Linked DNA regions of Homo sapiens. The protein of the gene in region 3 interacts with the protein of the main gene of each other region in a pairwise test. Each region holds a gene or a part of one and is shown on either strand. Other genes may lie near its edges. The genes, in order: ASPG, MANBAL, TMEM115 and CYB5R3.

Region 1 (7,116 bases), on a different chromosome or scaffold from region 3:
AGATGCAGAAAAGACAGGCAGGGCTGCAGAAAAGGTAGGCAGGGCTGTAGGGTGGTCCGGACCACCGGGCACTGTCAAATGGCAGATGTCCCTCCGCTCTGCTCTGGGTGGGGCTGGGGCCGGAGTGGATTTTATAAACACTCTGGGAGGGTCCCACCCAGAACTCTCCTGCGCTGTGTGGAAGGAGGGCCACTGGGGAGGGTGTAGATGGGAAGTGAGAGAGAAGAGGGGACGAGGAGACCCCTGGGTGGCCAAGGAAACACTTTTCTGAACAATCAAAAATAAAGGAGGGGCAGGCAGAACGTGGGGACTTGGCTGGGGCTGCCTAGGTTCCCTGGACTCACCTCCTGGCACTACACTGCCTGGGGAGCCAGGGGGCCAGGAGCCAGGGAGCGACTGGCACACCCCACACCTTCCTAACCCAGCCCCTGGTGGGGAGCCCTTCCTTCAGCAGCAGGCAGCACAGCGATGGCCAAGTGTCCCTCCAGGGGGACAGACGTTTGCCCCTCCACGCCACTCACCCGGGGTGAGGCCGCAGCACCCTCCACCTTGCTCCACCGTGGCCAGCTTCTGGCCTCCCCTCACCAAGCCCCGGGACTTCACGTGAAGATCACTTACTGGCCTTCTCCCCTCGCGGTCCTGGGTTCTCTCCTCCTCCTGGCCTCTGAGGCCAGAATGCTGAGGCTCAGACTAGGGCCTTTGTCTCTGCTGACACCTCGCTGCTGTCACGACTTTGTGGTCCCTGTGCCACTGACTGCAGGACGCGCAGCTGAGTCTCCTTGGACCTGCCCAGGTGGCCCCCAAGCAGGATGTGTCCAACACACCTTGCTTCCCTCTGCCTGGCCCCAGGCCCCACTCTGGCCCCTGCTTTCTCAGTAAGGACATCCCCACTCCGTGGCTGCTCTGGCCAAAGACAGGAGAGTCACCCTTTCTCTTCGGCGCGTACCCCTCAAGCTCCAGCTTGTGCTCCCAGCACTCCCACCTTGCACTTCCCCATCCCCAGCTCCTCCCCACCCTGCCCAAAGCCCTCCTGAACCCATTCTTGTCTCAGTCTCCGCACATAGCAGCCAGAGATTAAAACAAACCAGCCCAACCCTCGGTGGGGCTGGTGTTCACCTTTGGGGTTAAATTGAAAGTCCTTGCGTGGCACCACAGTCACTCAGCGGGCATCCCCTCCCTCTGAGTGCTCTCGCCCCACTGACCTGGGCACTGTGGGGCCATGCTCACTCCTGCCTCGGGCCTCAGCACCTGTCCCTTCCTGGCAGCCTGTCCCGCCTGGCATGCTGGCTTTGCTCCAATGCCAACCCTTCGGAGAGGCCTTCCCTGGCCACCCTGTTGTAAACAGCACTGCCTGTCTCCGTGTTCCCTGAGTGTTCCTCCAGGCACTGTCACTGCCAGACGCTGGTATTTTTGTCTACTATGGCCCCCACCCTGGCTGGTACACTCAGAAGGACGGGCTGCGTCCCCTGTGCCTAGAGAGGCATCTGGCACAGAGCCAGCCTTCAACATATATTGCATGAAAGATTCCGTCCAAGGACGCTGTAGATGTAGGTGGACGCAGACAAAAGCAAAGCAGGACAGTGGATTCGTCCAAAGACCGGCAGTGTCTTCAGGTGAAGCTGCAGCGTCGAGTCCTGGTGCTTGCAAGGTTTCAGCAGCAGAAACCTGATGGGGCTCCTTGCACCTGGGAGAAAAGCCACTCCAGTGAGGATTATTGCCAGTGAAGGCTGCCCTGGCCCCAGACAAGTTTTCCTAGAATTTATGGTAGCAGGCGGGTTGTTAAAGGATGATTCCCGAAAGGGCCAGACATGGTGCTCACAGGGATGCAGGGTGAGCATGCGTCGAAGAGCTTCCCTAGCCCAGGCAGCTGTGAGGACCAGCTCAGAAGAGAAGTCCTGAAACAGACACTTACAGATGAGGAATATTGACATGATTGTGCAAATGGACCTGAAACTGGATTTTCAGGGGGCTGTGATGGGCTGGATTGTCTCCCTTAGATTCTAATGTTCAAGTCCCCCACACCCCAGTGTCTTAGAATGCAACTGTATTTGGAGGTAGACTTTAAAGAGATGGTTGAATTAAAATGAGGCCCCAAATTCAATCTGACTGGTATGTCTATAAAAAGAGAAAGTCTGGACATCTGGAGATACATCAGGGATGCGTGACTGCTCAGAGGAAAGACCCTGTGAGGCACAGCAAGAAGGCACCATCTGCTTGCCCAGGAGACACCAACCTGTGACACCCTGACCTTAGACTTCCACCCCCAAGAACTGTGAGAGGTAGACCTCCTTGCACTGTAAATCACTCGTTCTGTTACTGCAGTCCCAGAAAACTAACACAGACCTTTGCTGGGCAGAATGCCTTTGCTTCTCTGCAGACAAGATTACTTTTGCACTATTGCACTGTTGTTATCAAAATAATTATATGGGGCTGGGCATGGCGGCTCACACCTGTAATCCCAACACTTAGGGAGGCTGAGGTGGGTGGAGTACCTGAGGTCAGGAGTTCAAGACCAGCCTGGCCAACATGGTGAAACCCCGTCTCTACTAAAAATACAAAAAAAAAAAAAGAAAAAAAAATTAGCCTGGTGTGGTGTGCACCTGCAATCCCAGCTATTCGGGGAGGGGGCTGAGACAAGACAATTGCTTGAACCTGGGAGGCACAGGTTGCAGTGAGCCAAGATCTTGCTACTGCCCTCCAGGCAACAGAATAATAATAATTTTTATTATGGAATCAGTGTCAAATGCTGGTGCCTTCTGGGGGCAACACACAGTTTCCCACCAAAGTGCATCAGTGCCCCAGGCAGTCAAGGTGCCAGGAGACGAGGAGGCCGCGGATCTTCTGTCCACCTGGGAGCAAGCCTGCAGCTTGGGACCCTCCTGGGACCCTGCACCCGCCAGTGCCCTGCCCTCCTGGGCTCTCATGGGAGTGAAGGAGGGTGGGCTCTGTAGGAGTTAAAGAAAGAGGAAAGAAACATGAAAAGCGGCTCAACAAAGGCAGGTTTATTTTGGAGAATAAACCTGAAAGGGACTTCTGGCCGATTTTGGTCAGGAGCCATCTCTCCTACAGACTAAGGATCTTTAAGGGTTTAGGAAGTGGGGAGCTTATCGCAGGCTCGGAATGTTTCTATGTGAGGGAAAGTTTATTGCGGGCTTGGAATGTCTCTGGTCGGAGGGGAGGTTATCTCGAGGTTGGCATGTTTCTGATTGGAGATGTTATTTGTGGTTTACGGTCGTGCTGACATTAGCTATTGGGCTGATGTGTTTTGGGCTGGATTTAGGCAGCTTTTTAATCAAAGGGAACCTAAAATGGCGGTGTTTGTCCAAGAAGGCCATACTCCTGCTCTGTCCCGCTCCAGCCCTTGGGGGCCCCTCGGGCTCTTCTCTTGGATGGTGTGTGAATGGGCACATGTGGAGGGGCTGGTCCAGCTCTGCCTGCCTCTGGCCATCCAAAGGAGGGACAGCAGGGCCTGGGCAGCAATGCCGGCCTTGGAGCCCCGGGGCTGTGGAGGCTGCTTGACAGGACACGGAGCCCCCTCTGTGCTCAGGTCGTGGAGGGCCTCGGGCACTACGGTCTGCCAGGCACCACATGTCACAGCTACTCAAACACCCAGGGCCGCCACGGAGGGCCAATGGCCGCAGGATGGCTCAGGACCCGCCCCACCCCTGTCGCTGCCTTTCTGGCTGCCCCCTAGTCCCTGGACAGGCGCTCCCCAGCCCCAAGCAGGCCCCAGCCAATCTCCTGCCCAGGCAGGAGCTCCCCCTGCCGCCCTCACAGACCTCACCTCTTCCTACACGTTTCCAAGGCCGCGCCCCGCCCCGCACCCCGCCAGGCCCCGCCCCGCACCCCGCCAGGCCCCGCCCCGCACCCCGCCAGGCCCCGCCCCGCACCCCGCCAGGCCCCGCCCCCACCCCGCCAGGCCCCGCCTCTCTCTCCGACCCTGGACAGTCCCCGGGACCCACCCCGCCCCCAGGTCCTGCCCCCGCCCGCCTCCGCGGGGCCTCCCACCCTCCCGGGCAGACTCCACTCCCGCCCCCTCCCCGTGGGTGCCCCCGCCGGCCCCGCCCTCCCAGGCTGCCCCCGGCGCCCCGGGCCTCCTCCGCGCAGTCCCTGAGTCCCGCAGGCCCTGCGTCCCCGCTGCACACCCCCGTCCACTCCCGTGGTCCCCGGTCCGGCATGGCGCGCGCGGTGGGGCCCGAGCGGAGGCTGCTGGCCGTCTACACCGGCGGCACCATTGGCATGCGGAGTGAGCTCGGCGGTGAGTCCGAGACCCTGGGCGGGGTAGGCCTCTGGACCTGGCCGCGACCGGGAGCCTCGGACCCTCCTGCACCCACGGGGGTCGTTGGGGAGTCAAATCCGCGCCTGGATGGGGGGTGCGGGCTGAGGTCGCTCTCCTCCGGTTCCGGCCACCGGCGTCCCCACGCATGGAGCCCCGACCTGGACAGAGGAGATTGCGGTGGGTTCTCGCCGTCGCGGTGCTCCCGGGAGCGCCCTGCGACCCTGGGGCCAGGCCCCCTGTGCTGCCGCTGCGCCCCTGAGGGCCAGCGTCCTGAAGTCCTGGAATATGGGGCGGGAGGGCCCCAGGGCATTGGCCTGCCGCTCCTGCTCTGGACACAGAAGGCTTAGGAGGCTGCCCTGGAGAAGGCTTAGGAGGCTGCGAGGACCCCTCAACTGCGACACCCAGGAGGGTGTCCCCGTCCCCTGGGGTCCTGGTCAGGCAGCAGTGGTTGGCACGATACTGGGGCTACCTGGCATCTGCGGGGACGCACGTGTTCACACCCGAGGTGGCCTCAGAGCCCTGCTTCCTCTGCCCCTGTGTGGACCTGGTTGACCAGAGACCAGCGATTGCGTCTGGACTGAGTTCTGCCTGGGTGGGGTCAGGGCCTGGGACAGGCACCGAGCTCTGTGGTACTCCAGCACAGTGCTGCCAGCCTGGGCTGGGCACAGGAAGGATGGTAGCTTGGGGAGCCTGAGGCCACCGGGATGGGGAGAGGACGGTTGCACTGGAGCCTCCAGAATGCCTGGGTGTTCCCCAGGAGGGCAGGACACTGCCTGGGGCCCCCAGATGGGCTCTGCTGTGATGTGGGGCCTCCCTTGGGGCCAGGACAGCCCCCTCGCCCCGTCTTGAACCTGTTTGCGACCCTCCATGGGCCACTGCCTGCCTTTCCCTCAGGAGCCCTTTCCACTCCTCCTCCTCCCACTCCCTGCTGCCCTGGCCCCTCCCCACACTCCTGCTTGTGTCCAGCGCAGCTCTCTCTCCTGGGACGGCTGGGACCCTCTCCGGCTCTGCCAGAGCCCAGGGCCTCCCCTGGCATGACCAGAACATTCTCTTGTCCCTTGCCCATCTGCCAACCACTTCCCCGCCCCTCCTATCCCCACCCCCTCTCACGGCCTGTTCCCTGGCAGCTGCCCCTCCTGGCCACCCCTTTCTGCTGAAGTGGCTGCTCAGAAGCCACCAGCACTCTGTCGGTGCTCTCAGATTCCACCCACCACACTGTGGCCGGTGCAGACCCCTCTGGAGGCCCACTCTGCGCCCAGCCCAGGAGACAAAGCCTAGTGGGGCTCGTCCACGAGGGACTCAGGTCCCCAAGAACGTGGCTGTCCAGGCTGCCGGGAGCCTCCTCTGCACTTCTCCTTCTGCCTGTGAATGGAACAAAGTCATTCACAGCTTGGCAAACGCCCCTGTGTGACACTCCACTGACACAGAGTGACACAATTCCTGTGCTTGGCCCTCACAAGCTAGAGAGAGAGGCTGCCATTGAAGGGATGGCATGCATTAAGGAGCTAGTCCCAGGGGCAGGATCTGCCAGGGCCCTGTAGGGGCTGTGGGCTGATAACAGGGTCTGAGCTGGGTGTGTGGATGGTGTGGAGTTTGGAGGCAGCCCAGGGAGGGCTTCTCTGAGGACACAAGGCCTGCAGGACAAAGATGGGAGAGGGCCAGGCCAGGAGCAGCCCTGCAAGGTGCAGGAAAGAGGAGTGGGGAGCCCAGCAGGGCCGGAGCCTGCCAGAGCTGCCCCCGAGTGGGGACAGGACCTGGGGACTCTGTGTGGGGCCTCGTCCGACGCCCCTGACGCTACCCCTTCAGGCTTGGAGTGTGGCCAACTGCAGTTTCGTTGAGCTCAACATGTAGTTCTTGAGTGGTCCGAGCTGCAGGGGCAGGTGGACTCTGTAACCCCACCACACACCCGTCTCGCTTGGCCCCCGCGTGCTCGCCGCAGCAGCCTGTGGGTGCACTCACACGCGTGCACCGCATTTCTGAAAGAGGCTGTGAGGTCCTGTGTCTGGGTGGGAAACAAGAGACTTGGAGGCTGGAAATTGGGTGTGGGGCGTCAGTCTTCAGACCTGAAGCAGCCTTCTGAGATCCCTTGGTGCTCTGTGCACTGGGGTCCTGGCTTCTGCTCAGCAGCCCGTCCTCGTGTGGCTGCGAGGTCACCCCCAGCTGTTGCTAGCTGACCCATGTGGGGCATCCACTTCCAGGAACCTGCAGGAATGGGCTCCCCCAACCCCTCGTGAGGTTGGAGCAGCCAGACTGTCAGGCGTCAATGATTTACTCCCTCCACACTGCTGACGTGGGCTCTGGCCTTCCCTGGGGAGGTGAGAGGGGAGTGGTGGCTTTGCCCTAGTAAAGCTGTTTGATTGTCGCTGTTGGAACGGCTTCTGCGCCTGCTGGTAAACAGTGACCTGTGGGTGGAACGCTGCACACCTGGAGCCCTGCCAGAGTTCAGGGAGGGCAGAGGTGATGCCAGTGGGGACGCCCCTTGACCCATCCCTTCTCTGAGTTCATTGAAGCTATCACAGGTCAAGGGGCATAGCGAATCCAAACACGGCTGATAACCCCAAGCCCAAGCTGGCATCAGTGGCCACGTTCTGTACACCCGAGAAACTTGAAGACTTCCTATGTCAAACTGGGAACCCCACCTGCTTGCCGGCCTGTCCCAAAGTCCCTCCTGAGCCCGGCTCCTTGCAGGCACAGCAGGGAGGGCAGAGATCTGGGGCCAGGCAGCTGAGAGAAGCTCCCTGCCCGGTGACCACACGGGTCCCAGCAGTCGAGAGTGTCAGTGGAGTGATGCCCATGGCTTCTTGGTTACTGCAGTGGCGTCTGTGCCCTTGGCCTGG
Region 2 (7,124 bases), on a different chromosome or scaffold from region 3:
AAAAAAGAGAGAAAGAAAGAAAGAAGGAAGGGAGGGAGGGAGGGAGGCAGGATGGGTGGTATTGGGGCTGAGCCCTATGGAAAGAGAATGAACCTGTCTTGTGGAGAGCCAGAAGACAGCATTCTAGACAGAGAGACCGACAAAGGCAATGGTTTGAAGGTGGAAAAGCAAATGTCGTACCTCTACTTTCCCTTTTCCACATCCAAATCCAGCCCATCATTCGGGACCCACATTGAGCTGCCTCCCTCACGAGGCCTTCCTAGATACTTCGGCGCGTGCTGATCCTGCCCCTCTTCCTAGAGCTTTCATGTGTGTACACTCATCTGACATGCACAGGTCAGCTGGGTAGTGCAAAGGTTATGCATGCAGACTCTGCGAGGCCTTAGGGAAGCTGCTTAACTTTTCCAGCCTTAGGTTTCTTCACCTGTAATGCCTACTTTATAGGGTGCTGGGGGAGAATATTGATACGTGTAAAGTGCTTGGCACCTTTACACATATGAATATGCAATAAACAGCAGCTACAATTAATACAAAACTGGCTCACTCAGTCAAGTGTGACTCCAAGAAAATATTTTTCAGAGAAGAGGCTACGGCTTTTTTGGCTTTTTCTTCTTCATTGTGCAATCACTGTGCCTTGCATAGATATTAGGCATAGAAATAAGCCTGCCACAAAGCTCTCCTCCGTGCTGTGGTGCTCATGGAGCCATGCAGGGCACAGAGACAGCAAAACTCAGCTGGAGGCCTCTAAGAGCTTCTAGAGAGTGAGCAAGTAGCTGTGCCTGTCATTGTGCCTGCAGCAGTCACTTGGGCGATCTTTTACATTTGGATACAGAGAGTAACAGGTTTCAAAGCACCTGCACACCTGGATTAGTATGCTGGGGCTGCTCTAACAAAGGACCACAAACTGAATGGTTTAAACAACAGATATTTACTTTTTCCCAGTTCTAGGGACTAGGAATCTGAAATCAAAGCGTCAGTGGCACCTTCTGAGGGCTGTGAGGAGCCTGTCCCATGCCTCTTGACTAGCTTCTGGTGGCCTGCTGGCAATCTGTGGTGTTCCTTGGCTGTAGAGGCATCGTCCCGATATCTGCCTTCATCTTCACATGACGTTCTCTCTATGTGTGCATCTGTGTCCATGTTCCCCCTCATTTAAAATAAACTATTTCCTTTTTTAGAGACAGGGTCTTGCTCTACCACCCAGGCTGGAGTGCAGAGGTGCGATCATAACTCACTTCAGCCTCCAACTCCTGAGCTCAAGCGATCCTCTCATCTCAGCCTCCTAAAGTGCTGGGACTACAGGCAAGAGCCATCGCGCCCTGTCAAAATTTCCCCTTTTTATAAGTACAGCAGTCATACTGGATTAGGGACTACCCTAACACTCTCATTTTAACTTGATTACCTTTGTAAAGCTCCTATCTCCAAATAAGATCCCATTGTGAGGTACTGGGGGTTACGGCTCAAACACAGCTTTTTGGAGGGACACAATTCAACCCAGAAAACACTCTCCTCACTCACACCCTGCAGTGTGTCTCTCCAGGGCAAGTAGTAAGTCCTGTCCTAAACATCTGCACCCTGCAGGCCTCAGTGTCACCCCCTCAGCTATTCTTAGGCTCCAAGCCGTTTCTCACTACCCAGCCTTTCCACCACCCATCGTGCTTTTTCCTCCTTCTCTTTGCCTGGCAAAGTCCTCCTCATTCTTCATTTCTTTTTTTGAGATGGAGTATTGCTTTGTTGCCCAGGCTGGAATGCAGTGGTGCGACCTCGGCTCACTGCAACCTCTGCCTCCTAGGTTCAAGCAATTGTCCTGCCTCAGCCTCTCAAGTAGCTGAGACTACAGGTGCACACCACCATGCCTGGCTAATTTTTTGGGTATTTTTTGTAGAGACGGGGTTTCGCCATGTTGCCCAGGCTGATCTCAAACTCCTGGGCTCAAGCAATCTGTCCACCTTAGCTTCCCAAAGTGCTGGGATTATAGACGTGAGCCACCACTCTTCATTTCTTACCAGAAATGTGATCTCATGGACGTCTTCCCTCATCACCTCTCTTTTGATTGTATCTCCCATGTTATTGCTTCTCTCATGGCTCCCCCTTCTTCCTTCCCAACACATCTCATGGTTTTTAAGTGTACATTTATCTGTGTGATTGATTAGTGGGGGTGACAGACATTGACCCCTAGTCTATAAGCACAGTCAGGGTAGGATCCCACCTACTCACCATTGTCTTCCCAGTTTCATAGTGCATGATCCAGAGTAGAAACTCCATAAATATTTTTTAAATGAATAAATTATGCATTTTGGGTCCCCCATGCCACCTCACATAGTATGGGATTAGTGAATGTTGAGTGTATTATTTGTCTTCTAAGAGACTGAATTCCTTTAGGGCAAGATAGGTCTCTCTCTCTCTCTTTTTTTTTTTTGGAGTCTCTGGTATCTAACCTCTGTTCCTTGATCCTCTATGTATGTTATCTAGGCTGCATAACCAATTATCCTAAAACTTAGGAGCTTAAAACAATAACATTTAGTATTTCACAATTTCTGTGAGGCAGGCATTCAAGTGGCATTGCAAGGTATTTCTGGCTCAAGGTTGCTCTTGAGTTTACACTGAAGATTTTGGCCAGGCCACAGTCATTTGAAAGCTTGACTAGGACTGCTGGAGCCACTTGGCTCATACACATGGCTGGCAAGTTGGAGCTGGTTGTTGGCAGGCAGCTCAGTTACTCCCCATGCGAGCCTCTCCATAGGACTGCTTGAGTGTCTTCACAACATGGATTCCCCATGAGCAATCAAGACAGAGGAAAGAGGAAGTTGCAATGTCTTTTATGACTTTATCTTGGAACTCGTGCTCCAAGATTTCCGCAATATCCTATGGGTTATACAGGTCAGTCTTATTCTTGGTGGGAGGTGACTACAGAGGGGTATGGATATCAGGAGCCAAGAATCGTCAGGGTTTATGGTGGAGGCTGGTTATCACACTCTCATCTAGGTTTCTTTTTCTCCTACTACTTGCCCCCCACCCCTTCTTAATCATGGAACACTGTTCTTTGCCTTCAAAAAACTTATCCTGTTATATGATTACACATTCATTTAATTAGTCTGTCTCCCTCCAACGGACTGTAAGCACCACAAGGGCAGAGACTGTATGTGTCTGCTTTAGCACTGTGTCCTCAGTTACAAGGACAAAGCATAGAGTACGCGCTCAGTGAATGCTTTTTGAATGAATTATAATGATTTGCTTCTGTCTGAATTACAAGAGGTGTTTCTGTTTGTCTCCTCTCTGCATTGTAGGCTCCTAGCTCAGGACCTGGCATAAAATTAAGGAAATGAACGTGAGAAACACTTTTGAAATAGTGACAACACATCCAGATGAACATTTTGCAGGACAGCTACACACCCGTTTTAGCTCACCAGCTACCAGTTGTGACTGTGCTCTGCTCTGGGAGATGGCTTAGCTTTGCATAGGACAAAATTCTAATCTAGTTTCGCGCAGTTCTTACGAATTTGTTACAATGAGACGGGCCAAGCTATACAGCCCATTGCGATGAATAAGTAACTTTTTTTTTTTTTTTTTTTTTTTTTTGAGGAAGAGTCTCATTCTGTCGCCCAGGCTGGAGTGCAGTGGCGCGATCTCGGCTCACTGCAACTTCTGCCTCCCGGGATTCAAGAGATTCTCTTGCCTCAGCCTCCCAAGCAGCTGGGATTACAGGCGCCCGCCACCACGCCCGGCTAATTTTTGTATTTTTGGTAGAGACGGGGTTTCACCATGTTGACCAGGCTGGTCTCGAACTCCTGACCTCAAGTGATCCGTCCGCCTCGGCCTCCCAAAGTGCTGGGATTACAGGCGTGAGCCACCGTGCCCAGCCCCGAGAAGTAATTTCTTTTGTTTTCTTTTTAATTAAACAAAAATGTTGCTGAAACGAGCTGAGTGATATAGGAGCTTAAAGAATTGACAAGCTCTAGATTTCATTTCCCCAAACCTCTTTGTCCAGCTCGAACCCACAGAACAGGGACAAAAGTCGACAAAACCCAGCGGTGCCTCACCCAGAAACCTGGCAACGCGGGCGGAACAGAGCCGGTTGGTTGCTCAGTGCGCGTCACTTCCGGGACTCAGGGTCGCAGGGAACTACTTCCGGGGGAGCGGCGCGGCGGCGCGGGAGGTGAGTGCCGCAGCTTTGCGGTGGGGTGGGAACCGAGAGAGAGCCGTCCTCGGTGCGGTGGCCTGGCTTTCCCGGCCGGCCTGTCTCCAGCGGCGCCGCTTGGTGGGCCCGGCTGTCGCTCCGCTCAGGGCCTGAATACGTTCCCTCGGCGGTTGTTCGAAAGTTACTTCCGGAGGGGAATTTGAGCCCCCCGGGAGGCGGAGGGCCTCGCCTGGGGCAGCCCTGCGCTTTCGTGCGGAGGCTGGGCCAGAACCCAGGGCTCCTCATGGCCTGGTCCGGGCCTTTCCTCCCACGGGTGGAGCAGTAGGAGAACCCTGAGCTCCAGAGTGAATCTGGCCAGGGTTCGAATCCGTATGGCTCTCTTACCGTGGGCAAGTCACGGTTCCTCTCTGGCCCTCAGTTTCGTCTTCTAAAATGGACATACACGCTTGTACTGCGGGGTAAACCGAGGTGGTGAATGTAAAGCCCTTAGTAGGTGCACAGTCCATGTTTGTTGTACGAATTCTAAGAGAAGCGAGAAATGAATATGAGAAACATTTTTAAAATGGTGACAACACATTTAGATTAATAATTATATTTTGCAGGGCATCTGCACACCAGTTTCAGCCCACCGGCTACCAGTGTGACTTTGCCCAGAGAGGTGGCTTAGCTTTGCATTCTAATCTAGTTTTGCGTGGTTCTTAGGAATTTGTTTTAATGGGACGGGCCAGGCTGTACAACCCATTGCCATAAAGCGGTAACTTCTTTTTCTTTCCTTTTTTTTTTTTTAAAGCCATTCTATTTATTTATTTAGAGACGGAGTCTCTCTCTCGTCCACGCTGAAGGGCAGTGGCGGGATCTTGGCTCACTGCAACCTCCGCTTCTTGGGTTCAAGCGATTCTCCTGCCTCAGCTTTCCGAATAGCTGGGATTACAGACGTGTGCCACCACGCCCGGCTAATTTTTGTATCTTTAGTAAAGACAGGGTTTCACCATGTTGGCCAGGCTGGTCTCAAACTCCCGACCTCAGGTGATCCACCCGCCTCGGCCTCCCAGAGTGTTGGGATTATAGGCGGGAGCCACCACACCCGGCTTTTTTTTCTTTTTAATTAAAAAAAAGTTGAAATAGAGATGGAGTCTCACTATGTTTTCCTGCCTGGTCTTGAACTCCTGGAGGCAAGATATCCTTCCTCCTGGACCTCCCAAAGTGTTTGGGATTACTGGCAAGAGCCACTGTGCCTGGCCTAAAACAGTAACTTCTGACACTGGTTTCTATTCCCCAGTCTGTTTTCAGCTGAATTTTCACAATAGAATTTAAAGTTACTTCATTAGAAGCCAAGAATGGCCTACCAGCACAGTACACAACATTGGGAGATGAAGGCCTGTGGCAGTCGTGAAATCTGAGTTTTTCAGTCTTAAGAGAAGATTTAGTATTTGCTAAGTCTTGAGAGCTATACTTGTCTCAGTGGTTTTTTATTTATTTGTTTTGAAATGTTGACCCATTCTTTTTTTCCCCAATAACCTTTTTGTTTTAGAATAATTTTAGATTTACAAAGTTATCGCAAAGATACTTCAGTGAGTGCCCATATAGCCCACGTTTCCCCTATTACTAATATCTGAAATGTCACAATTACTGAACCAATATTGATACATTATTATTAACTCTAATCTGTACTTTATTCACATTTCCTTAGTTTTTCCCTAATGTCCTTTTTCTGTCCTGGTATTATCCAGGGCACCCTATTACATTTAGTCATCATATCTCTTTAGGCTCATCATCTCTGTGATCGTTTCTCAGACTTCCCTTGTTTTAGATGAACTTGAGGGTTTTGAAGATAGTACTGACTGGTCAGATATTTTGCAGAAGGACCTTTAATTAGGATTTGCCTGTTTTTGACATGAGTAAGATCAGGGTAATGGGTTTTTGGGGAGGAGGACCACTGATAGGGTTCGGCTGTGTCCCCACCCAAATCTCATCTTGAATTGTAGCTCCCATAATCCCCCCATGTTGTGGGAGGGTCCTGGTGGGAGACAATTGAATCATGGGGGTGGGTCTTTCCCATGCTATTCTCCTGATAGTGAATAAGTCTCAGGAGATCTGATGGTTTTATAAAGGGCAGTTCCCCTGCACACACTCTCTTGCCTGCTGTCACATAAGACATGCCCTTGCCTCCCCTTTGCCTTTTGCCGTGATTGTGAGGCCTACCCACCCATGTGGAACCGTGAGTCCGTTAAACCTCTTTTTCTTTATTAATTACCCAGTCTCGGGTATTTCTTCAAAGTGGTATGAAAATGGACTAATCCAACCACAGAAGTAAAGTGCTATTCTCATCACATCATATCAAGGGTACATACTATCGATATGAGTTATCATTGTTGACATCTGTTAGCTTGAGCCACCTGGCTTGAGGTAGTAGTCAGGCTTTTCCAGTGTAGAGTTACTTTTCCTCCTGCACTTTCCGCACTGTACTTTTGGAGAAAGTCATTATGTACAGCACACATTTAAGGAGTGTGGAATTATGCCCCATGCTTAAAGGCAGAGTATATAATGCAAATTATTTGGAGTTCTCTGTGGGAAATTTGTCTGTTCCCCTATTTTTTGCTTACAGAGTCATATATTTGTATCGGTGTGAACTCATGGATTTGTTTTGTTTTGAGACAGGGTCTCCCGCTGTCGCCCAGGCTGGAGTGCAGTGGTGCAGTCTTGGCTCACTGCAACCTCCACCTCCCGGGTTTAAGTGATTCTCCTGCCTCAGCCTCCTGAGTAGCTGGGATTACAGGCACCTACCACCATGGCTGGCTAATTTTTGTATTTTTAGTAGAGAGAGTTTCACCATGTTGGCCAGGCTGGTCTTGAACTCTTGACCTCAGGTGATCCACCTGCCTTGGCCTCCTGATTACAGGAATCCCCTCTCCTGGGATTACAGGCGTGAGCCACCATGCCGGGCCTGAACTCATGGATGTTTATTTTATACTTTGGACCAGAATCCAGT
Region 3 (6,837 bases):
GGGCTCAGATGGACTGGGAGGAGGGGGAGGGTGATGCATTAATTAATGGCTTCGTTAATTAATGTCATGTTGCTTGTCGCTTTCTCAGTGTGTGTGTGTGGTCCATGCCCACTGCTGGTGCCAGGGTGGGTGTCCATGTGCACCCGGCCTGGATGCCAGCTGTGTCCTTCGGGGGCGTGCGTGTAACTGTAGTGTAGTCAGGTGCTCAATGGAGAATATAAACATATACAGAAAAATATATATTTTAAGTTTAAAAAACAGAAAAACAGACAAAACAATCCCCATCAGGTAGCTGTCTAACCCCCAGCTGGGTCTAATCCTTCTCATTACCCACCCGACCTGGCTGCCCCTCACCTTGGGCTGGGGGACTGGGGGGCCATTTCCTTTTCTCTGCCCTTTTTTTGTTGTTCTATTTTGTACAGACAAGTTGGAAAAACAACAGCGACAAAAAAGTCAAGAAACTTTGTAAAATATCGTGTGTGTGATTCCTTGTAAAATATTTTCAAATGGTTTATTACAGAAGATCAGTTATTAAATAATGTTCATATTTTCACTTCAAATGGTTCCCATCCACTGTATCAGCTTGGGGGTGAGGACTGGGTAGCTATGAAGACAGTTGGCCAAGACCTCAGAGTCCCACTTAGTGCTCTGCAGGGGGTGAAGACCATGGTAGCCCAGGTCCCTGTCAACCACAGGGCATGGCACTTGCTTCCACCAGTTATAATAGGTGCCAGGCCCTTGACATACATTGTCTCATAACATCTCAAAAAGCTGTCTTTTAAAAACAAGCAAGACAGGCTGGGTGCGGTGGCTCATGCCTGTAATCTAGCATTTTGGGAGGCCGAGGCGGGCAGATCACTTGAGGTCAGGAGTTTGAGACCAGCCTGGCCAACATGGTGAAACCCCGTCTCTACTAAAAATACAAAAAAATTAGCCAGGCATGGTGGCATGCGCCTGTAATCCCAGCTACTTAGGAGGCTGAGGCAGGATAATTGCTTGACCCCAGGAGACGGAGGTTGCAGTGAGCCAAGATTGCGCCACCGCACCCCAGCCTGGATGACCGAGCGAGACTCTTGTCTCAGAAAAAAAAAAAATACAAGCAAAACAAACACCCTCCCAGAGCCTGAAAGCCAGGACCCTGGAGGGAAGAAGACAGATCAGAGATGCTGGTTTAGTGGGGAGGTGGATCTGGCAGTCTGGTCAGACCACCAGGGCCTGACAGGGCCTCTGCCGGGAGCTATGAGTGAGCACCTGGCCAGTGTCCCTACGGCCCAGGAAGCCCTGACCACAAGTGCAGCAACGGCTCCCTCCTGGCCCACAGGAGCTTGAGGCCGCAGCTGCTTAAACTGGAGCCATAGGCCAAACTTCATTTTTGTGAATCCTCTCAAGCTTAGGCCCTAGTTCATTTTCACCCTAGAAGGTGTGACCTTTGCGATCTTCTCATGTGGAGAGAATTATAACCTGTAACCACCAGAGCACAGGTGTCCCTGCCTTCCCACCACAGTCCTCTCTCTCCTCCCAACACTCTGCTCTCTGCGCACTGACCTGGCTGAGTCCTCGCCACAGTCTCTGGGGTGGGTACTAGTGTATCCCCATACCACAGATGAGCAAACTAAGAGGAGAAAGCCTTTCCCCCCAGGTGAGAAGGCTAAAAACCAGCAAAGATTTTAGAGAAGAGGTGGCCACCAAGGGTTGGGGAGCTTGGATGCTAAATAGATGAAGGGGCTTCGAGGCCTCAGCCAAGATGGAGACTTTTTCTGTCTCCTCTGCAGGGTTCGGCTGCAGAGCAATGCCTAATCCACAACCCCCAAGACAGCTCCCATGGCCTGCAAGAGACCGTGCAATCTTGGATAGGGTTGTAAGATAAAATACAGAACACCCTATTTTGAATTTCAGATCATGAACGAGTTTTTAGTATGGAAGTGTTTCAACTATTGTGTGGGACATACCTATACTGAAAAACTGGGGGCTGGGCACAGTGGCTAACGCCTGTAATCCCAACACTTTGGGAGGCTGATGCAGGAGGATCGCTTGAGCTCACGAGTTCGAGATCAGCCTGGGTAGGATGGCCACCCCGCCCCTGCCCATGTCTCTACAAAATAAAAAAATTTTAAAAATTAGCTGGGCACAGTAGTGTGTGCCTGTAGTCGCAGCTAATCAGGAGGCTGAGGCTGGAGGATCCCTTCAGCCCAGGAGTTAGAGGTGGCAGTGAGCTATGATTGTGCCACTGCACTCCAGCCTTGGACAAAGCTAGACCCTGTCTCAAAAAAAAAAAAAAAAAAAAAAGGGGGCAGGGGGACATGATTATACTCGAAGATTACTCATTGTTTATCTGGAATTCAAATTTGACTGAGCATCCTTATTTTGATTTGCTAAAACTGGCAACCTTACCCAGATGTGGCAACCAGTGGGAACCCAGACCCCAGAAAAAAAGCATCAGCACCCTTTTTAACCTGTAGGCCATGCACACATCAGCACACACTGAAATCAGTGGCTGAAAGGAAGGGATCCTGTGTTTTATAAAAGCACTTTGTCATAGAATTATTTTAATTATATGGACAGCTTTTTGTTTTGTTTTGAGACAAAGTTTCGCTCTTGTTGCCCAGGCTGTAGTGCAATGGCATGATCTTGGCTCACCGCAACCTCCGCCTCCCGGGTTCAAGCGATTCTCCTGCCTCAGCATCCCGAGTAGATGGGATTACAGGCATGTGCCACCACACCTGGCTAATTTTGTATTTTTAGTAGAGATGAGGTTTATCCATGTTGGTCAGGCTGGTCTCAAACTCCCGACCTCAGGTGATCTGCCCGCCTCAGCCTCCCAAAGTGCTGGGATTACAGGCGTGAGCCACCGTGCCCAGCCTATATGTACAGTTTTTTAAAAGTAACTCCATATACAAAAAAAAAAAAAAGACACAGAACACAACCTGTCAGAAGTCACTGTGGCGTGAAGTGGGACCAGAACAGGCCTAGCCCAGGCTTGTGGAGAGACCTGGCTTGTAGAGAGACCTCTCATCCTCCGCAGTTATCAGAAGTCCCTGGTGGGGAGGAGGGTCACTGAGGGCTGCCCAGCCTCGTCCCTATGCGGGAGGGAGCCCTAGGTTCGTGCTCCAGGTCCACCTCACTTGGAAAAAGGGCAACGTGAAATAACAAACAAAAAACTTTTCCAAGTGGGAGAAAACAAACAAAAAAAGGCAACATGTGCAGCACTCGCTGAGCACCCAGGGTGGACTGGCATTTTACACCCCTTTCCCCTTTGATTATTAGGACAGGAAGATCATGTCATCAGCTACATTTTATGGCCCATGAAACTGAGTTTCAAAAAGGTTCAGGAACTTAACCAACCAATGCCACACAGCCTCCGAGGCAGAGCAAGGGTTCCAGCCTGGGTCAGGTCCCATTCACCAGACCACGGAGGTTCTGTTTCTCACACAGTGACACCTACCCACACGCCAGCCAACAAGGACACACTCGCTCAGAGGTACACGCACAAATAGAGCTACTCTTCCTAGGGAATTCAGCAAGTGTGGGGGCTAGAGCTGTGTTGCTTCCCGAACCCTCACCGCCGCTTTCAGGGGTTAGAGATGCTAATTCATCCCTTCCCACCTCCTGAGAACCGACGGAAACGGTCCCTGAGAACTACAACTCCCAGCACACCCCGCGCTCACCACAACGGGACCGGTCCGTGCTCATGGCCTCCTGGGACTTGTAGTTCTAGCCAGAACCCTGTTCAACTCTTCCCCGGCTGCAACCAAGGACTCCGTATCCCAGCATGCAGAGGAGCCGGAAGACAGGCGCTTAGAGGACAGCCCGCTGCCGCCGGGGACGCGCAGGCGCAGCACCCCTGTTTGTCGGCCCCCCGAGAGAAGAGGTACGGTCGAAGCCAGGAGCCAGGCCGAGCGGGAGCTGACCAGGCTTGACTCGGGTACAGAACGAGGCACCAGTCCCCTTGCGAACCGAAGGGCCTCGCAGTGGATGGAGGAGGCCCAGCCCTGAGGTCAACGCCAACCAGGCTAGCCTGGCACGGGGCCTACAGGGTGGGTAGGCGGGCGTGCCGCAGCCGTCCAGGGCCTTCCCTCAGGTCCCGGGCGAGGGGCCTACGCTGCGGCCCGGCAACAAGGCCCGACTCGGCCCCTCGGGACCAGAGCCCCACCCGATCGGAAGCGGATCCTTTACCAGGGCCATAGGCCAGTGACTAGGCCGGGCCTGGGCCTCCCATCGGGGCCGGACTAGGACGAGGCCCCGGGGAGGCCCCTGGCCTACCAGACCCTTTTCTCAGGCCGACAGCCGCCAGGAAGATGCAACGTGCCCTGCCAGGCGCCCGCCAGCACTTGGGGGCCATTCTGGCCAGCGCCAGCGTGGTGGTGAAGGCTCTGTGTGCGGCGGTACTATTCCTCTACCTGCTCTCCTTCGCCGTGGACACAGGCTGCCTGGCGGTCACCCCGGGCTACCTCTTTCCTCCCAACTTCTGGATCTGGACCCTGGCCACCCATGGGCTGATGGAGCAGCATGTGTGGGACGTGGCCATCAGCCTGACAACGGTGGTGGTGGCCGGGCGTTTGCTGGAGCCCCTCTGGGGGGCCTTGGAGCTGCTCATCTTCTTCTCAGTGGTGAATGTGTCTGTAGGGCTGCTGGGGGCCTTCGCCTACCTCCTCACCTACATGGCTTCCTTCAACCTGGTCTACCTGTTCACTGTCCGTATCCACGGCGCCTTGGGCTTCCTAGGTGGCGTCCTGGTGGCACTCAAGCAAACCATGGGGGACTGTGTGGTCCTGCGAGTGCCCCAGGTGCGCGTCAGTGTGATGCCCATGCTGCTGCTGGCGCTGCTGCTCCTGCTGCGGCTCGCCACGCTGCTCCAGAGCCCGGCGCTGGCTTCCTATGGCTTCGGGCTGCTCTCCAGTTGGGTATATCTTCGCTTCTACCAGCGCCATAGCCGGGGCCGAGGGGACATGGCTGACCACTTTGCTTTCGCCACTTTCTTCCCTGAGATCCTGCAGCCTGTGGTGGGTTTGCTGGCGAACTTGGTGCACAGCCTCCTGGTGAAGGTAAAGATATGCCAGAAGACGGTGAAGCGCTACGATGTGGGTGCCCCATCCTCCATCACCATCAGCCTGCCAGGCACAGACCCTCAAGACGCCGAGCGGAGAAGGTACTGTGAAATTTTCCAAAATCTTGTCAAGCTAGGAGCATACTGGTCGAGTCACATGCCATCTGTTGAGGTGTTCGCTGTACATAGGTGGAGACCTACAGTCAGGTATTGGGGCACATCCGGAAAGACAAAATCAGTCTTTGGCCTTAAGGAACTCAGCAGTTAGGTGTCTGGGGTCCACGAGGCACTTTTCTCACCACTCGGGCCACTTAATAAGTCTCAAGAAATGCAGTTTCCTTTGGTGCTGTGAAGTCCCAGTGGAGGGACACAGAACCCTGGCCTTGCCTCAGAATCTCAGAATCCTAGACATTGGGCCTGTGGGAGCCAGAAGCAACCTGCTGGTACTTTCCCCTGTGAGGAAGGGACAGGGAAGGAGGCCTGGGGTCCTCAAAAGGTGATCTGGGCCACTCCAATTTCCAAATGCTGTGTCCTCTTCCTGGGCTTTAACTCAGATGCTGTGCTTCTCTGCCACTTACTTATTGAGAGGGAAGCTTGGGGTATTACCACATTTACCTCTGTCTCCAGCAAGCATGTGTCACCAAAACCAGGGACAGGCTACATGACCCACTGAGGGAGCCTGCTGACACCAGGGAGTGGCGATGACCCTTTCATTATCTGTAAACCAAGCTATCCACAGCATCAGGAGTCCCAGCTGAATTATTCACTGAATGCACTTTGGCCAGGGCAGGAGGGATCTTTTTAAATTCAGCTTACTCTCTCTCCCAGATCTGTGGAGCCAGCAGAGTGGTCCCAGCCTTCATAAGATCCACAGCTCCATTTCCAACATTATTCCTCACTGTTTTGAGGCAATTACTCGAGTAGTAAAATCTGGGACGGGCTTTGTCTTTTGCATTGCCAAGGCTCCTGCTTTTGCTCACCTGTGAATGGGGTTGTGGCAGGAAGCTCTATGAATTTAGCTGCAGTTATCCCTGTATTTACTCTCCACTGGGCTATGGAATTGAGTGTGGGACACACTCCTTTCTTGAAGGAGTTCCAGCTGGGGAAGGGCCACAGATCACTATGGCCCAAGGTATGGTAGGTGTTGAAAAGTATATACAGCATGCTGCAGGGCATAATTCTGGGCCCTAGAGCTTGGGTCTTTATAGGTGATAAGCCCTAAGGACAGAAGTCTCTCTTAACCTTAGCTGGTATTAAAGATGGGGCCAGGTGAGCTGGGCCTGGTAGGAATTGAGCTGTCCCTCAGAGCCATTCAGGTGGGGCCAGGCCAGTGGGGACCCCTCCTCCACTGAGAGGTGTTGGAATGTTAGGGTTGGCTGGACATTCAAAAACCTCTGCCTAGGCCCAAGAAAATGGACAGGGGGGAAGCAGGTTGGTGGGGAGGAAGGGAGGGTCAAGAGGCGGGTTCTTGGCATAGCCTTATGGTTGTTAGCTTACATGGGGGTGGCGGTTATTCCTCCAGCCAGTTTGACATCTGACTGCATGGCCACGCCCAACTCCAAAGGGCTACCAGGAGAGGGAGGCAGGGTTTCCTATCTGTCTCTCTGGTCCTTGTGAGGAAGTGACTAGCGTAACACTAGCTCTCTGCCTTGGCAGGCTTTAGATGGAACTGGCAAGGGCATCATCAGGATGGCAGCCTGGGTAGCAGCAGGGAAAGACTGTCCTGTCTATACCAACTTGTCATGTGTGAGACTGACGGGCAGGGGGGAAGCGTGCTAGGGCTTTCTACACCT
Region 4 (7,024 bases), on a different chromosome or scaffold from region 3:
GTAGCTGCGATTACAGGTGCCCGCCACCACATCCAGCTAATTCTTTATATTTTTAGTAGAGACGGGGTTTCACCATGTTGGCCAGGCTGGTCTCGAACTCATGAGCTCAAGTGATCCACCCACCTCAGCCTCCCAAAGTGCTGAGATTACAGGCATGAGCCACCATGCCTGGCCTAAAAAGAAAGTTACACATAGTTAATAGAAAAAGAAAAGTGAAAAGATGCACACAAAAATCCTAACAGTCATTATTTCTGAAGGGTTTCAGGTACTTTTTCTTCCATATTTTCTGTATTTTTTTCCTTGAGTTCATCTAGCCCAAAGCCTGTCCCTGTCCCTGTCCTCACCCCATTAGGGCAGAAAGGGCCCTCAGCCTCCCACCCTCAGAAACTGGAAAAACTGTTCAACACCCCGTGTTCCCTGGGATGTGTTGAGGCTTATGCCCCTCACACAGCTCATCTGCTGGAGGGGAGCACCAAGGAGCTGGTGATTCCCGTATTCAGGCACCCTTGGGCTACGCGGAGGGTGGGTGCAGTTCCCCAGCCCTGGGAACAGAGGAGTCACGTCTGTGGCTGCCTCCTGGGGAGAGTCCACCCCGCCCTTGCCCAGCCTGGGAGCTCAGTAGCGATTTGTTAGTGGGCAGCCCTTTCTGGGTGGCAGCGCTCTTTGGCCCCTGGTTTCTTTGAGTTCCCTGAGGTCAGGGACACTGCACACTGACCTAAGGAGCCCCTTCTGTCCCTGTGTGACCTGCAAACGCTGGGCAGCAGCCTGTGATGTGATCAGAGGTGGAACGGGGGTGGGGGGCGGGGAGTCGGGTGGGGGATTCAGGGGGAGATCCCTGATAGCCCCTGGAGGGTCCAGGAAGCTTTCCTGGAAGGGATGACGCTGGACTGAGTTCTGTAGGGCTCTGTGACAGCCGGGTGGGGGTGGGGGAGCCGCAGGCCAGCCAGGAGGATGGGTGTGGGCAAGGCCCGAGGGGGCCAGGTTGGGTGGGGAGTGGTGTCTGTACTTCCTGGTTTCTGGAGGTACAACCTGAATGAGATCCCAGAACGCAAAAAGACTTGCCGGAGGGCTGAGGGTGCAAATCCTGAGCCTTCTCACGGGGCCATTGCTTATTGTATGTGTTACACCCGCTCCCGGGCTGACCCCCTGGAGTATCTTGGCACATTTCCCGTCTCTTCCCTTTTTGCTGTCGCGCAGCTTGGCCGCCTTTAGTTTTTTCCATTTTTCCCACTCTCGGGACATCGAGCCCATTTCCTCACAACAGCAGAAGCAGTTGACACACTGAGTTTCTAGCGAACGCCTTCGCCCCTTCAGCAGCAGCTTTGAGGGGCTCCTTAGGCTAGACAAGGAGAGAGGGGTGCCAGGGTGATCTCTGGCCGAGTCCCCTCCTGAAAGCTCCGCAAGCGTGTGGCCCGCAGGCGGGCGCGATGACGAGGCGCGTCTCTGTTGAGTGTCTCCAGGGGCAGTCTGCCACCCATCCTTCCTGACTGCCTGGCCCTGTCCCCTGCAGACCGAGAAGGACATCCTGCTGCGACCTGAGCTGGAGGAACTCAGGAACAAACATTCTGCACGCTTCAAGCTCTGGTACACGCTGGACAGAGCCCCTGAAGGTGAGTGAGGGAGGCCCCTCACTGGGTGGGTGGGAGGTGCCAGCCCACAGTTCACCTTTGCCCAGCTGTTTGTGGCGTTGAGCCTTTGGACGACATCTGGCACTCACTATGGCCCTGTGGGAGGCAGGTGGTGTGGCCCCGTCTCACAGATGAGGAACAAGGGCTCACTGAAGCCACACAGCCGGAAACCACCACAGCCCGGCCTGAAACCCAGGTCCTCGCCTCCAGAGGCAGAGTCCTTTCCCGGGCGCACTGCACTGCCCAGCTGGGCAGAGAAGGCCAGCGTCCCCTCCCTGGGCGGGGCTCACTTCGGGGCAAGTCTCGGGGCAGCGGTGGCGGCTGCTGCTTCCACATCCCAGCGTGCATACTCTCAGGTGCTGCCGAGTTACACCAAGGCCATCTTCTCTCCCATTGTCAGCCCTGGGGAGTGGGCTGGGCCGACGTTGGGGTTACCCTTGTTCCACCTGTCCAGTGGCTGAGCTGCTTGCCAAGGGAGTTGTGGGAGAGCCAAGCTGGAGGCAGCGAGTGAGGGCCGCCCCACCTCCACCACTTGCAGTGAGGTTGCCTCTGGGAGTTAAAGCGCCCTTCCCTTTTCGGCTTCAGATAGAGATGTAGGTATAAGTAATATCTCAATTTCTTCTTTGCTGTAAGAAAAGCAGAGCTCAGCCTTCCCCAGGAAACATTCTGGTGATGTTTAGCTTCAGGGCTGAGAGACTAGGGAGTGGCGGCAACTGCGGTAAATTGGAGCGCATCTGCCTGGTCCGGAGGACACAGCCCCATCCGCCGTGGGCAATCCCGCTGTGGAGTATAGCCCTGTGTGGCCAGGGCCTCTGCTTTTCAAGAGAAGCTGGGGACCTGCATTTTCTGGGAAATTTCTAAGTGTTGGAAGCACCATTTTTGAATACCCGTGTGAGCACCAGTTTGGGGTCTCATGTCCTGCCATCTGCCCCTGCTTTGCCTCCGGCACCTCCTACGGCCCCACAGTTTCCTCAGGACTAATCCATGGTGGGGGGCGCACACCCTCTGCTGATGATCCATGTCAGGGGGTGCATGCCCTCTACTGATGAGGGAGCTCTGTCCACACCACCCTCTGCTCCTCCCAGAAAGGAGCACATGGGCTCTGGGACTTGCACCACCTGGCTAGCACCTAGGAGCTGGGTCACCTGGGCCCATCCCTGAGGGAGCAGCCGCCCTTCTCAGATGACCAGCTTGGGTTCCAGGCCTCCAGGCTGAGAGACCCAGGCCTGGAGGGGGTGGTGGATGTGTGGGTTGTCACCGTGTCCGGCCTCTGGCTGGACCTGCTGTCCTGGGTCAGCCCACCCCCTCCAGGTCGGCTGCTCCACCTGGTATGCTCAGGAAGCCAACCTGACCCCGCAGCTGACCTTCCAGTGGGGGAGGCAGAGGACTAATGGGAGCAGGTTTCTTAGTAAATTATAGCGCGGTTATGGTGGCGGGGTTCCTGTGATGTGGGGGGCCAAGCAGAGCCAGGCAGCGGCTGGAGCGGAGGTCAGCCAGGGCACTGGCTCTGGGAGTCTAGCTGCTGTTTCTCTTCTACTAACGAAAGGAGCAGGCCGGGCGCGGTGGCTCACGTCTGTAATCCCAGCACTTTGGGAGGCCGAGGCAGGCAGATCATGAGGTCAAGAGATCGAGACCATCCTGGCCAACATGGTGAAACTCTGTCTCTACTAAAAATACAAAAATTAGCTGGGCGTGTGTCGCGTGCCTGTAGTCCCAGCTACTCGGAGGCTGAGGCAGGAGAATGGCTTGAACCCGGGAGGCAGAGGTTGCAATGAGCCGAGATGGTGCCACTGCACTCCAGCCTGGCGATAGAGCGAGACTCCGTCTCAAAGAAAAGAGCGTTTTATCCTGTACCCATGTGTCAGTCTAAAGGGAGGAAGTGATAGGCTGCTTTGCTCCTTTCTGACTGCAGTTTCTAATGGCATGGGCGGGGCCAGCTTGCTGCGAGGCAGGGTTTAGCCCCATCCCAATTCCAGATGAGTGATCCAGATCCCTGGTGCGTGCAGGAGCCCCTGCCCTGTGGCCAGAGCGAGGCCTGGTCCCCCAGGGAGGGGCCAGTGCTGACCCCTGGTGGCAACAGGCAGCAGCACCTGCACCACCACCACGGGACAGTTACCTGCCAATGAGAGGAATAGTTGGGTGATCTCCTAGCATTTTTCGTGTACATTTGTTGCCACTGTGACCCACAATTCAAGATTAGTTGAGGTACTGCTGTAGCATTAAATGTAAGCTGAAATTCCAGAGGTTGAGAAAGAAAGTGGTAACAGGCCAGTCTGGCTGTACCGTAGCTAAGCGAAGGATGAGGAGAGCCCCAAGGACTCCAGGCAGGGGCAGTGAGTATTTCCCCCACAGAGCCACTTTCAGGACAGGTACAGGGAAAAATACATTAAGCCATGCACGGTGGCATGCACCTGTAGTCCCAGCTATTCAAAGCTAAGGCAAGAGGATCACATGAGCCCAGGAGCTCCAGGCTGGAGGGCATTATGATCACACCTGTGAATAGCCACTGCCTGCCAGCTGGGGCAACATAGCCAATTCCTGTCTCTTAAAAACACACACACACACACACACACACACACACACACACTAAAAAGAAATCGCTGTGAAATTGAAAGGTGTCTTACATACCTGCACATTTTGTACACTAGCAGTTTATGCCCATGCAGTTTTTACAAGGTACTTTCAGATCCACTTCAGATCCATTGCCCAGCTATAAAACTATTTTCTGTGCCTCGCCTTGTTCCAGAGGGATTTTAGGAGGCTTACAAAGACTCATCTGGTGAGTCAGAGTGGCACAAATGGAAAGTGGGAGTGAAAGAAAAACAAGTGCAGGGCTATAAAATGAATGGAATCAGTACTGGGATTTGTACAAAAACGGACTATAATGTACGCTTGCTGTGAATGGGCCACACGTATCACTCCAGGCTTCCCAGCAGCCAAGGTGAAAAGGGAAATGTGGTCAGTGACTTAGCTCATGGAGTCCATGAGATAAAGAGGACCCCCTTGCTCAGCACAGTAGACTCTTCCTGGTTCCAGGGCAAGCGGGACTGCTTTGGCCCCTCCCCGTCAGGACCTTCACAGCGTGGAGTGTATGCTGTAAACTTGGGCCATCTAGGCAGGGTGTCTGTGTCAGCCAGTGCCAGCCCTCCTGGCCTGAGGCTTCAGCAGCTTTTCTCTTGGTGTTGAGGGCTGTGGGGTGGTTGTTTCTGGTTACTAAGGATAGAGACCAGCCATATCATCGTGGGCGCTCAGGGCTCGAGGGGGCAGGACACACAGCTGTGGATGAGACTCAGTTCCTCATGGGCCGACATTCTTGGGGAGTCACAGTGGGCTCATGGAGGTGGGGGCAGTTAGAGACTGTCACCCTGAGCAGCCTGGGGCAGAGCACCAGCCTGGGGACCTCTGGATCCTGGAAGGTACATCTCAGTCGTGTCCCTGCCTCATTGTGTGATCTTGAGCAACTCAACTCTGGGTCCTCTGGGCCTCAGTTGCCACATCTGTAAAATGGGATTCATATTCCCCGCCCTGTCCACCCACTGGGTTGTTCCAAGGGACACCCCGGAGGCCAAATGGAAGCAAAAGGCTTTGCAAACTGTAAAGTGCAGTCAGGGGAACCATGATGGGCTTTGTACACTGGTTTCAGGCTGCAGGGCCTGAGGCCATAGGCTTGAGTCAGGGTTGGGGGCAGGGGGTCCTGGTGACAGTTTGCTGGGATCAGCCTCTCCATTCTTCAGCATTTAAGGAATTCACCGCCTAGGGTTGGTCGGTCAGCAGGTTGGTGACCACACAGCCACACGTCAGCTTACCTGGTCTCTCACCCCACAGCCTGGGACTACGGCCAGGGCTTCGTGAATGAGGAGATGATCCGGGACCACCTTCCACCCCCAGAGGAGGAGCCGCTGGTGCTGATGTGTGGCCCCCCACCCATGATCCAGTACGCCTGCCTTCCCAACCTGGACCACGTGGGCCACCCCACGGAGCGCTGCTTCGTCTTCTGAGGGCCGGGCACGGTCACACGGCCACCCGCCCCGCGCACCCCACGCCCTGTTCACGCTCACCCAGTCACCTCCCCACATCGCACACTGGGGCCCCGGGTTCAGCCTGGCCTGCCCGTGCCCTGGTGAATCACCTGGCTGAGCAGTTCCCCTGGAGCCCCTTCGGGAGCAGGGCTGTGTCCCAGATGGGCCACGGCTGAGCCTTCAGAGTACGTCCTGCCTGGCACTTACTGGTCCTTACCAGAGACGCCCAGCCCCATCCCTGTCCTCATGACCCCTCGTCCACCCCCCACACACACTATAAGGCTGAGGGCTGCCAGCAGCCCCGTCTGCCCACCATTCCCGGCCGTGGACCATAGTCGGGATGTCAGCAGACACACATGGGCAGCCCAAAGCTGCAGGTGCCAGGGCCCACCCCAGCCTCGCCTGTCACCCCCACTCCCGCCTCAGGGCCAGGCCCAGGCCTCACCACCTGACGCTGCATGAGACATTGACACCAGAAAGCCCTCTTGGGGGCACTGCTCCCTACCCCAGGGCCCTGGCCAGCCGGGAGCTTGGCTCTCCTCTGGCTAGAGTGGGAAGAGGGGGCTGGCCATGGGGCCCTCCCAGAACCTCAGCATTTCCTTCCAGCCCATCCAAACACTGAGGCAGCCTTGGGGAACCCCGAGCTGGGGGGTTGGCAGCCCACTGCACCGCCTCAGGGTTTTGGGGTCCTGGGCTGGGGCCACCATCCCTGATGGCAGAACTCCCACAACCACATGTATTTATTCCTCTGTCCTAAACCGTCCCCTCCTTCCCTCACCCCCAGCACAGGGGGATTCTGAGCAGTGCCTCTTGTCTGAGGGACATATCAGTGACCTCGACGTTGCCTTTAGACTACAGTTGTGTTAGCCTCTTGCGTATTGGCTTTTTCAGAGTCATTTATGAGCAGAAAAAAAAAAAGTAAAACTTTGCTAATATTAACCCTTCTCTAGCTCCTCGAGGGTCTGTGACCTGCAACACAAGGGGTGGGGTCAGGAAAGGGCTGGGGAAGACCTAGCATTTTTTTTTTCTTTTTTTTTTTTTTTTGAGACGGAGTCTCCCTTTGTCACCCAGGCTGGAGTGGCATGATCTCAGCTCACTACAACCTCCACCTCTCGGGTTCAAGCGATTCTCCTGCCTCAGCCTCCCGAGTAGCTGGGACTAAAAGTGCCCACCACCACACCCAGCTAGTTTTTGTATTTTTTTTTTTTTTTTTTTGAGACGGAGTCTCGCTCTGTCGCCCAGGCTGGAGTGCAGTGGCGGGATCTCGGCTCACTGCAAGCTCCGCCTCCCGGGTTCACGCCATTCTCCTGCCTCAGCCTCCCAAGTAGCTGGGACTACAGGCGCCCGCCACTACGCCCGGCTAATTTTTTGTATTTT

The links.
Region 1: the proteins of TMEM115 (region 3) and ASPG interact in binary tests that used the Homo sapiens proteins (3 or more experiments, as listed by UniProt).
Region 2: the proteins of TMEM115 (region 3) and MANBAL interact in binary tests that used the Homo sapiens proteins (3 or more experiments, as listed by UniProt).
Region 4: the proteins of TMEM115 (region 3) and CYB5R3 interact in binary tests that used the Homo sapiens proteins (3 or more experiments, as listed by UniProt).

Annotation. Positions count from the first base shown.
Region 1 is NC_000014.9:104,081,595-104,088,710, forward strand, and holds the start of ASPG (60 kDa lysophospholipase), read left to right. Parts: upstream 1-4,105; 5' UTR 4,106-4,176; coding exon 4,177-4,258; intron 4,259-7,116. Other genes in the region: uncharacterized protein LOC124903408, read left to right, coding at 1-34, 1,266-1,341. UniProt on the Homo sapiens protein: Exhibits lysophospholipase, transacylase, PAF acetylhydrolase and asparaginase activities.
Region 2 is NC_000020.11:37,285,534-37,292,657, forward strand, and holds the start of MANBAL (protein MANBAL), read left to right. Parts: upstream 1-4,121; 5' UTR 4,122-4,153; intron 4,154-4,735; exon of another isoform or gene 4,736-4,793; intron 4,794-7,124.
Region 3 is NC_000003.12:50,356,522-50,363,358, reverse strand, and holds the start of TMEM115 (transmembrane protein 115), read left to right. Parts: upstream 1-3,837; 5' UTR 3,838-4,295; coding exon 4,296-5,146; exon of another isoform or gene 5,147-5,241; intron 5,242-6,837. UniProt on the Homo sapiens protein: May play a role in retrograde transport of proteins from the Golgi to the endoplasmic reticulum. May indirectly play a role in protein glycosylation in the Golgi.
Region 4 is NC_000022.11:42,618,375-42,625,398, reverse strand, and holds part of CYB5R3 (NADH-cytochrome b5 reductase 3), read left to right. Parts: intron 1-1,510; coding exon 1,511-1,610; intron 1,611-5,453; coding exon 5,454-5,626; 3' UTR 5,627-7,024. UniProt on the Homo sapiens protein: Catalyzes the reduction of two molecules of cytochrome b5 using NADH as the electron donor.